Regions from separate parts of the Homo sapiens genome. Here region 1 is linked to region 2. The links come from fine-mapping of genetic effects on gene expression. A gene starts in region 2. The other region holds a variant in brackets. All regions are shown on one strand. Distances are from middle to middle. Region 1 has its middle 23 kb from the start of PLEKHB1. Region 2 holds the start of STARD10 (StAR related lipid transfer domain containing 10).

Region 1 (5,374 bases), 880 kb after region 2:
AAATGAAAAAATAAAATGAAATTACTCTTTATCCCCCCAGTAAGGGGACAGGTTTTTAGTTCACTTGCAGAAGTTCCTACTTCCTCACTTCAATCCCCTGTCCTCTGTTCTGGCTTTCTCCAAAAACCTCTCCACATTTGTGCTTTCCAGTCACCCCAATGAACAAAGCAATGAGTGCAAATAGATGTTCCCGATGCAGTTTGCTTCAAAATCTCTCCACTAGTAGGACTGCAACATGAATTTTTAATTCTTCCAGCTGTCCAGTAGACAATTTTTAAATTATTCACACACACATTAAGACAGACATTAATCCTCATAGACAAAACACTCTAATCTGGAGGTGGCCTATGGACGACATCTGGCTCACAAATTGTTTTGTCTGGTCAGCACATAGTTTTTAAAAAGTTTTGAATTAAAATGGGCAAAGATGAAAGAGACAGATGACATTAAGTACTGACATGGAGTCTCATACACTTCTGGAATAACTGTAAAGTTAAACTGGTACAATTGCTTTGGAAACTGATTGGTAAGGCCAAGTATATGCATATATTATAACGAATCAATTCTACTCCTAGGGTGCACCCAACAGAAATGTGTACTTACCTTCACCAAAAAGTAGGTAGAAAAGTGTTTATAACAGCAATGGAAAAAACTTAAATTCTACAGGATAAATCTACTGGTAATATTCACAAAATGGAATAATAGTCAACAGAATTAATTATTCACAAGTATATGCAAAATTATGAATGTAATAAAAAATACACCAAAAAAGCAGAGAGGACAGGGAGTGGGGGTGGGACAGTAGAATGATACTCTGGTAAATTTCCTTTCACAAAATACCTTATGTGAAGTAGTACAATATTAAGTATATGCTGATAAGTCAAAGATGCACATTGGAGTCCCTAGATCAACTGGAAGCCAGGTTTCTCAGTGGTGAAGTAGAAATTTACAGATAAGCAAAGGGAGGAAGCTAGAATGATTCATGTGGTAATGGATTACAGTTGGAGACATCAGTATGAACTCATGTCTAGCTTGACATAGAGACGGGATTATATACAGAAATATTTACAGATATGTGTATATACACATCAGTACATACATATATTTCCTTCATCTGCCAGCTGAGAGAGCCTCAAAGAAATGAATACACCTAGGCTGGGCACAGTGGCTCACGCCTGTTATCCCAGCACTTTGGGAGGCCAGGTGGGTGGATAACCTGAGGTCAGGAGTTCAAGACCAGCCTGGCCAACATGGCGAAACTCCATCTCTACTAAAAATACAAAAATTAGCTGGGCGTGGTGGCATGCGCCTGTAATACCATCTACTAGGGAGGCTGAGGCAGGAGAATAATTTGAACCTAAGAGGCAGAGGTTGCAGTGAGCCGTGATCGTGCCACTGCACTCCAGCCTGGCTGACAGAGCGAGACTCTGTCTCAAAAAAACAAAAAATAGCCGGGTGTGGTGGTGGCACGCACCTATAATCCTAGCTACTTGGGAGGCTGAGGCAGGAGAATCACTTGAACCTGGGAGGCAGGGGCTACAGTGAGCCGAGATCACACCATTGCACTCCAGCCTGGGCAACAGAGTGAGACTCTGTGTCCAAAAAAAAAAAAAAAAAGAAAGAAAGAAAAGAAAGAAATGAACACACCTAGCCCCACATCTTTTGTGTTTGTTTGTTTTTTGAGACGGAGTCTCGCTCTGTCACCCAGGCTGGAGTGCAGTGGCATGATCTCAGCTCACTGCAACCTCCGCCTCCCGGGTTCAAGCAATTCTCCTGCCTCAGCCTCCTGAGTAGCTGGGACTACAGGCACGCACCACCATGCCCAGCTAATTTTTGTATTTTTAGTAGCGACGGGGTTTCACCATGTTGGCCAGGATGGTCTCGATCTCTTGACCTCGTGATCCGCCCGCCTCAGCCTCCCAAAGTGCTGGGATTACAGACGTGAGCCACCACACCTGGCCCCACATCTTCATGTCTAATACCAATTCTCCAGTCAAAGAAATCAGCGATCCTTGGAGAAATGGCTGATTACAGGACTGGATAAAGAAGTATCCATGATGAGCCTGGAGCATCATATACTGCCATAAAGAAGAACTCAAAAGACCAAAACAAATGCACATCGATGGGGGTACATCGAAGGGGCAAAAGAACTGAAAGAGCTGGAACAATCTGGGCAACCAAATAAAGTAGTATTAGATTATAACCCAACGTATAAAATAAGTATCCATGAGTCCATACTGATATAAATTACTGAACATTTGAATAAATAAATGGGGGAGAAGAGACAAATCTCCCTTGGAGAATTACAAACAATTTACATAGATATTCCCCCCTAAAGAAGAACAAATCCCAACTCCTTAAGTATGGACTGCACATAGAGATATCCTTTAAAGAACAGAGATGGAGGCCGGGTGCGGTGGCTCACGCCTGTAATCCCAACACTTTGGGAGGCCGAGGCGGGCGGATCACGAGGTCAGGAGATCGAGAACGTCCTGGCTAACACGGTGAAACCCCATCTCTACTAAAAATACAAAAAATTAGCCAGGTATGGTTGCAGGCGCCTGTAGTTCCAGCTACTCAGGAGGCTGAGGCAGGAGAATGGCCTGAACCCAGGAGGTGGAGCTTGCAGTGAGCCGAGATTGCGCGACTGCACTCCAGCCTGGGCAACAGAGCGAGACTCCGTCTCAAGAAAAAAAAAAAAAAAAAAAGAATAGAGATGGAAATGCAGTAGGTGAGAAGGTGACTTTTTTTTTTTTTGGAGATGGAGTCTCACTCTGTCGCCCAGGCTGGAGTGCAGTGGTGTGATCCTGGCTCACTGAAACCTCCGACTCCCTGGTTCAAGCAATTCTCCTGCCTTAGCCTCCGGAGTAGCTGGGATTACAGGC[AC/A]GTGCCACCACGTCCACTTAATTTTTGTATTTTTAGGCGAGAAGGGGTTTCACCATGTTGGCCAGGATGGTCTCAATTTCCTGACCTTGTGATCTGCCCACCTCAGCCTCCCAAAGTGCTGTGATTACAGGCATAAGCCACCGCGCCTGGCCTATATATTCACCTTTTAATGGGCATTTGGGTTGTTTCTAGTTCTTGGCAATACTAGCTACTATGAATTTTGTGTACAAGTTTTTTTGTTTGTTTTTGTTTTGAGACAGGCTGGAATGCAGAGGCAAAATCACAGCTCACTGCAGCCTCGATCTCCCAGGCTCAAGCAATCCTCCCACCTCAGCCTCTCAAGTAGCTGGGATCACAGGTATGTGCCACCACACCTGGCTAATATTTTTATTTTTGTAGAGATGGGGTCTCCCTATGTTGCCCAGGCTGGTTTCAAATTCCTGGGCTCAAGTGATCCTCCCGCCTCAGTCTCCCAGAGTACTGGCATTATGAGCATGAGCCACCACGCTCAGCCTGTGTACAAGTCTTTGTATGGACACATGCTTTCATGTCTTGTGGGTAAATATTGAGGAATGGAATAAATGGGTTATATGACAAACATATTTAACTTTAAATGATGTCAAGCAACTTTTTTTTTTTTTTGAGACACGGTCTTGCTCTTTCACCCAGGCTGGAGTGCAGTGGCCTGATCTCGGCTCACTGAAACCGCCTCCCAGGTTCAAGCGATTCTCCTGACTCAGCCTCCTGAGTAGCTGGGACTACAGGCGTTCGCCACCACGCCTGGCTAATTTTTGTATTTTTAGTAGAGATGGGGTTTCACCACGTTGGCCAGGCTGGTCTCAAACTCCTGACCTCAAAATGATTGAGCTCCACTGCACTCCAGCCTGGGCAACAGAGCAAGACTCTGTCTTAAAAAAAAAAAAAAAAATCATCCCTCAAAGTCTTAACTCTTCTAGCATCAACTCAATCAAAAGTCCAAAGTCCATAGTCTCTTCTGAGACTCAAGGCAAGTTCCTTCCTCGTATGATTTTCTGTAAGATCAAAAACAAGTTATTGGCTCACACTTGTAATCCTAGCACTTTGGGAGGTTAAAGCAGGTGTACTGCTTGAGCCCAGGAGTCCAAGACCAGCCCAAGCAACATAGTGAGACCCCATCTCTACCCAAAATACAAAAATCAGCCACGCATGGTGGCACGTGCCTTGGTCCCAGCTACTTGGGAGGCTGAGGTGGTAAGATTGCTTGAGCCTGGGAGGGAGAGGTTGCAGTGAGCTATCATGCCACTGCACTCCACCCTGGGCGACAGAGCAAGATCCTGTCTAAACAACCACCACCACCACCATCAACCACCCCCCGACCAAAAACACAAGTTATTTACTTTGAAGACACAAGGGTGGTATAGGCATTGAGTAACATTCCCATTCCAAAAGGGAGAAATCAGCCAAAAGAACAAGGCAATAGGCCTGAAGCAAGCCTGAAACCCAGAATGACAGACATTAAACCTTAAAGCTCCAAAATAATCTCCTTTGACTCCATATCCCACATCCAGGGCACATTGATGCAAGGGTTGGCCTCCCAAGTCCTTAGGCAGCTCCACCTCTGTGGCTGCTGTCACAGGTTGGAGTTGAGTGTCTGTGGCTTTTCTAAACTCAGGGTGCAAGCTACTGGTGGCTCTAGCATTCTGCAGTCTGGAGGGCAGTGGCCCCTCTTCCCACAGTTCCACTTGGCATTGCCCTGGTAGTGACTCTTTGTGGGGGCTCCCATACCACATTTCCCCTCTGCACTGCCCTAGTAAAGGCTCCGGTGGGGGCTCTGCCCCGTGGCAGTCTTCTGCCTGGGCACCTAGGCTTTCTCATACATCCTCTGAAATCTCAGTGGAAGCTGCCAAGTCTCCTTCACTCTTGCATTCTTCACAGCTGCAGGCTTAACATCACATGAAAGCCACAAAGGCTTATGGCTTGCGCCCGCTGGAACACCGCCTCGAGCTATATCTGGGGCCCTTTGAGCAGTGTCCTGAGGCTGTGCAGGCCCTGGGCCTGGGCCCTGAAACCATTCTTTCCTCCTAGGTCTCTGATGGGAGGGACTGGCCCAAAGACTTCTGAAATGGCTTTGAGGCCTTTTCCCACTGTCTTGACTATTAGCACTTGGCTCCCTTTTAGTTATATAAATTTCCCTAGCAAGCTGTTGCTTGTATTCCTCTCCTGAAAATGCTTTTTCCTTCTCTACCACAAGGCTAGGATATACATTTTCCAAATTTTAATGCTCCTCTTCCCATTTAAATATATCTTCTAACTTTAAGATATTCCTTTGCTCCCATATCTGATTGTAGGCTGTGAGAGGCAGGCATGGCACATCTTGAATGCTTTGCTGCTTAGAAATTTCTTCAGCTAGACACCCTAGCTGAAGGTCATCACTGTTTTTTTATTTTTTTGAGACGGAGTCTCACTCTGTCGTCCAGGCTGGGGTGCAGTGGCACGATCTTGGCTCACT
Region 2 (5,374 bases):
CTTAATAGAGTCCTTTTCTGGCCGGGCGTGGTGACTCATGCCCATAATCCCAGCACTTTGGGAGGCCGCGAATGGATCACCTGAGGTCAGGAGTTTGAGACCAGCCTGGCCAACATGGTGAAACCGTGTCTCTACTAAAAATACAAAAAATTAGCCAGGCATGGTAGTGGGCACCTGTAATCCCAGCTACTTGGCAGGCTGAGGCAGGAGAATTGCTTAAACCCAGGAGGCGGAGGTTGCAGTGAGCCAAGATCGCACCCTTGCACTCCAGCCTGGGCAACAAGAGTGAAATTCCGTCTCAAAAAAAAAAAAAGAGGTCCTTTTCCTTCTTTAGCCTCAGTTTCTCTGGCTGAAAAACAGAAATGATAAGTGAAGGCCCAGATAATTAAATGCTTGGAGGTGAATCCAAGATCCACCTCCAGATAATTCCATTGAATTATCTTGGATACCTTTTTGTTGTTGTGTTTTGTTTTGTTTTGTTTTGTTTTGAGACGGAGTTTCGTTCTTGTTGCCCAGGCTGGAGTGCAATGGCACCATCTCGGCCCACGACAACCTCCGCCTCCTGGGTTCAAGCGATTCTTCTGCCTCAGCCTCCCGAGTAGCTGGGACTACCGGCATACACCACCACACCTGGCTAATTTTTTTTTTTTTTTTTTTTTTTTTTGAGACAGAGTCTTACTCTGTCAGCCAGGCTGGAGTACAGTGGCGCCATCTCGGCTCACCGCAAGCTCCGTCTCCCGGGTTCACGCCATTCTCCTGCCCCAGCCTCCCGAGTAGCTGGGACTACAGGTGCCCGCCACAACGCCCGGTTAATTTTTTTTTTTGTATTTTTAGTAGAGATGGAGTTTCTCCACTTTGGTCAGGCTGATCTCAACCCCCAACCTCAGGTGATCCGCTCGCCTCAGCCTCCCAAAGTGCTGAGATTACAGGCGTGAGCCACCGTGCCTGGCCTATCTGGGATATCTTGAAGGATCTTGGATTTCTATTTCTACATATACCTGCCTTTCATGACTTGCCTGGGGAGGCCCAATCTGTAATGAGACCTCAGGGTCTCCCAGCCCTTCCCCCAACCTACCCCCAAAACCTCTAAGAGCACTCTAGAGAGAATCAGCTGCATACAGCCCAGCTCCACCGCTCCAAGGGTCAGAGAAAAGTCCCCTTCCCTGGGGTTAGCTGCATGATCCTGCAGGTGCCATGGTGTGCCTAGGTGCCACCTCGCTTCACCTGGCTGGGGAGTGGCTCCTAGACCTCAGCTCAATGCGCATCACTTCCCCTTCTCATCAGCCAGGCCAGCCCAGGTATCACCTCCAGCTCCACTGCCCCCAGATGGAGTTACCTGAGTACCCAATTCCTCCCAAGCTCAGAAACAGTGTCCACTGCCTTCCCACTCCTTTCCATTCAGAGTCTGTCCCCTTAGTGCTGCCCCCTCATCTGTCACACCTGGGTTCTTTCCCTTACTTGGGCCACTGACCTGAGAAGCAGGGTCTGTACAGCTCCAGCAACACTCTCCTCTTCCTCCAGAATTCTCCAGATCCTCCTCAGCTTCTTGGCTCTGGTGCTCATCTCAACACAGCAGGGTCTTCCTCCATCAGGCCAAGGTGGGGGTAGGAGAAGAATTGGGAACAGGGACTCCCCTAGGTTCTCAGGGTACAGTCAGTCAATCTAAGCCTGTATCCAACAAAGACACTGACCCCTGGGGTACAAGGAAGGGCTCCAGGCCCAAAGGCAGGAGGATTAGGCTTTAGCTCTTGCTCACAGCCTGCTGAGACCTGGGGCAAGCCCCTGTCCCTCTTTGGGCCCTCAGGTTTGCAATTTGCAGAATGAGGAAATGGGTTCCTCAATCTACAATCACCTGACTATAATAATATTTTGCCTTTATATACCGCGTGGGTAAATTCCTGAAAGTAAACTAAGCTGTTTTCACCCCTGGATCTCATTTGATCCTCCCAACAGCCTGTTTGCATTTACAAATGAGAAAGCTCAGTTCCCTAAGGGAACAAAATTACCCAAAGTCACACAGCAAGCTGGAAGCAGAGCCTGGGTGCAGTCCTTGAATCCTGATCCTTCCCTGGTCCTTTACTCTCTATGATGCTGGAAATCTGCCTGACTTCCTCTAACCTGTTGTCCCATTTGTAAAAGGACTGTTGTGAGGACTGAATTAGGAGAGGCGATGAAGAGGGTCATTCCTTGTGAATCATAAAAGAAAGGACCACAGAACGATGACTGGACCGTTAGGTTACTATTTATTACGGTTATCTTCGCTCAGGCGCCCCCACGTGTCGATCCCGAGACTCTCGGCTTGCGCAGGCGCTCTTTGGTGTTTACAGCGGCCGCGAAGCCCCGCGTTTGCGCGTGCGCTTCCCGCCCGGGACCGCCCAGAGGTCCCGGACTAGGGGCGGACTAGGGGCCGCTCTGCCTCCCGCCCCCTAGTGGTTGTGGCCGCTCTGTCACCACGGCTCCCGGGGCCTCTGTCGGCTCCACTTTGGTTGAGACGTCTCCACAGCCCAACAACGGCGGCGATCTGAGGAGAGGCAGGAGAAAATACGGCGCGCTCGGCATCGTCCTTCTGACCGGGGACTCCAGCATCTCAGTCATCGCGTCACCAAGCCCCACGTGCAGGTTCTGGCATCCATCATGGCAAACTGGAGACCGCGGTGAATTCCACCGGAATGGCGCGCGCATTGCCACATGGGAACTGTAGTTCTTGGCTAGGACCTTTCTGGGGCTGGGCCGCTGGAAAAACTACATTTCTCAGGAGCTCAAGAGTCAGGCTGACAGAAAGGGGGCCCGCGGCATGTTGGGAGATGGAGTTTGGGGGGTTCGTGCTAGCAGGGAAACAGTGAAGCAATGGAGCCAAGTGTTCTGAGCCTGGGCCTGTGGGTTTGAGTTGGGCAGGAGTTACACAGTAGCTCTTATAAGAGAGGAGTAGCATTGTTGCGGCTTTTAGAAAGAATGCTACTTATTAGTTGTGTGATCTGAGCGATCAAGACAAATGCCCCTTTATCTTTTTTATTTATTTATTTTTTGAGACAGGGTCTCTGTCTGTCAGGCTGGAGTGCAGTGGCCCCAGAACTGCTGGCCTCCCGCCTCACCCTCCCAAAGTGCTGGGATTATAGGCGTGAGCCATCAGGCCTGGCCAGATGCCTTTTTATCAACTACGATGGACCTTAAGGTTAAGGTTAAGGAAACAAACGTTGCCTACCTCAGGGCTCAGCTGTCAGCTGGCATGGCAACTTCTTAAATTTCTACTGCTGCCAGAAAAACCACACTCTTACTAAACCCCTAGCAATAGGAGCTATCATGCAAATTGTCAGACTCTTCTTTACTGAGATTTACAACTCAGACCACTACAACGCTGATCGACAGAGGACAGGCCTTACAAACATTCTTTCCTGATAAGTAACTGCAGACCTCAGGCCAGTTTCAGCAAGCTCATAGAGACTGCACGCAAACTGTGTTTGTGTCCTATAGTCCACCTTATGATGCAAAGAACCAAATTCCACCTCACTTTAACGCAAAAACCCCATCCCAAAGTGAACATGGAACATATGTTACAGGTGTTTACCCATTGTGCATGCACTCACATCCCCTCATAAATATGTATAGCTTTTCCCCAAAACCTGCTGAATATGTATGATTATTGTGAAATACAGACCCTGTGAGTCATAAACCAGCCTAGGCCGGGAGTGGTGGCTCACGCCTGTAATCCCAGCACTTTGGGAGGCCAAGACGGGCGGATCACGAGGTCAGAAGATTGAGACCATCCTGGCTAACATGGTGAAACCCCGTCTCTACTAAAAATACAAAAAAATTAGCTGGGTGTGGTGGCGGGCGCCTGTAGTCCCAGCTACTCGGGAGGCTGAGGCAGGAGAATGGCATGAACCTGGGAGGTGGAGGTTGCAGTGAGCCGAGATCGCACCACTGCATTCCAGCCTGGGCGACTGAGCGAGACTCCGTCTCAAAAAACAAAAACAAAAAACAACCAGCCTGCCTTTTCCCTATACAAAGAGAGAGCACCTTTGGTACCTACAGGAGAGTGTCTCTTTTCAGTTTGCAAACTGATGTCGCTAATGAAACTGCCCTCTACTATTTAGGCATCCTGGTGTTCTAGAGGGTAGCAGTCTGCACCTCTCACAGGGCTTCCTCTTCCATCACTCCTCAGAGACTGTATTCACAGGGGTCACCTGTGTGTGAGATGCAGTTTGTCTTTTTTGGGGGGAGGGCAGGGGCTGTTCGTTTGTGGTTTTTTTTTTGTTTTTTGTTTTTTTTTTTGAGACGGAGACTTGCTCTGTCATCTAGGCTGGAGTGCAGTGGCATGATCTGGGGCTCACTGCCAGCTCCGCCTCCCGGGTTCATGCCATTCTCCTGCCTCAGCCTCCTGAGTAGCTGGGTCTACAGGCACCCGCCACCACGCCGGGCTAATTTTTTTTTTTGTATTTTTTTAGTAGAGATGGGGTTTCACCGTGTTAGCCAGGATGGTCTCGATCTCCTGACCGTGTGATCCGCCCACCTCGGCCTCCCAAAGTGCTGGGATTACAGGTGTGAGCCACTGTGCCCGGCCTTGTTTTTGTTTTTTTGAGACAGGGTCTCATTCTGTCACCCAGGCTGGAGGCAAGACCATTGTTCACTGCAGCCTGGACCTCCTGGGCTCAATCTATTCTCCCACCTCAACCTCCTGAGTAGCTGTGTTTATAGGCACACACCACTACACCTGGCTAATTTTTTTTTAATTCTCACTTTAATTATGTTTTGCCTTTTTTTTTTTTTTTTTTAGATGGAGTCTTATTCTGTCACCCTGGCTGGAGTGCAGTGGCTCACTGCAACGATCTTGGCTCACTGCAACCTCCGCCTGCCAGGTTCAAGGGATTCTTCTACTTCAGCCTCCCAAGTAGCTGAGATTACAGGCGCACACCAACACGCCCAGCTAATTTTTTTTTTTTTTTTGAGAAGGAGTCTTGCTCTGTCGCTCAGGCTGGAGTGCAGTGTCGTGATCTTGGCTCACTGCAACCTCTGCCTCCTGGGTTCAAGAGATTCTCCCGCCTCAGCCTCCTGAGTAGCTGGGATTACAGGTGCTCACCACCATGCCCAGCAATTTTTTTTTTTGTATTTTTTTAGAGACGAGGTTTCACGCTGTTGGTCAGGCTGGTCACGAACTCCCGATCTCATGATCCACCCACCTCGGCCTCCCAAAGTGCTGGGATTACAGGCGTGAGCCATCATGCCTGGCCTAATTTTTGTATTTTTAGTAGAGATGGGGTTTCACCATGGTGGCCAGGCTGGTCTCAAACTCCTGACCTCAGGTGATCCCCCTGCCTTGGCCTCCCAAAGTGCTGGAATTGCAGGTGTGAGCCACCGCGCCCAGCCTAATTTTTTG

What was found.
Region 1: its variant is fine-mapped to the expression of STARD10 in amygdala (GTEx, PIP above 0.99).

What each region holds. Positions count from the first base shown.
Region 1 is chr11:73,667,130-73,672,503 of GRCh38, forward strand. No RefSeq gene overlaps it. Among named protein-coding and RNA genes, the nearest start is that of PLEKHB1, 23 kb to the left of the region's middle. The variant AC/A (reference allele first, on the strand shown) is at 2,886.
Region 2 is chr11:72,791,404-72,796,777 of GRCh38, forward strand. It overlaps STARD10 (StAR related lipid transfer domain containing 10), which reads right to left and starts at 2,644. Exons shown (of 7, transcript NM_006645.3): 1 at 1,472-2,644. RefSeq lists enhancers at 769-1,268, 2,400-2,969.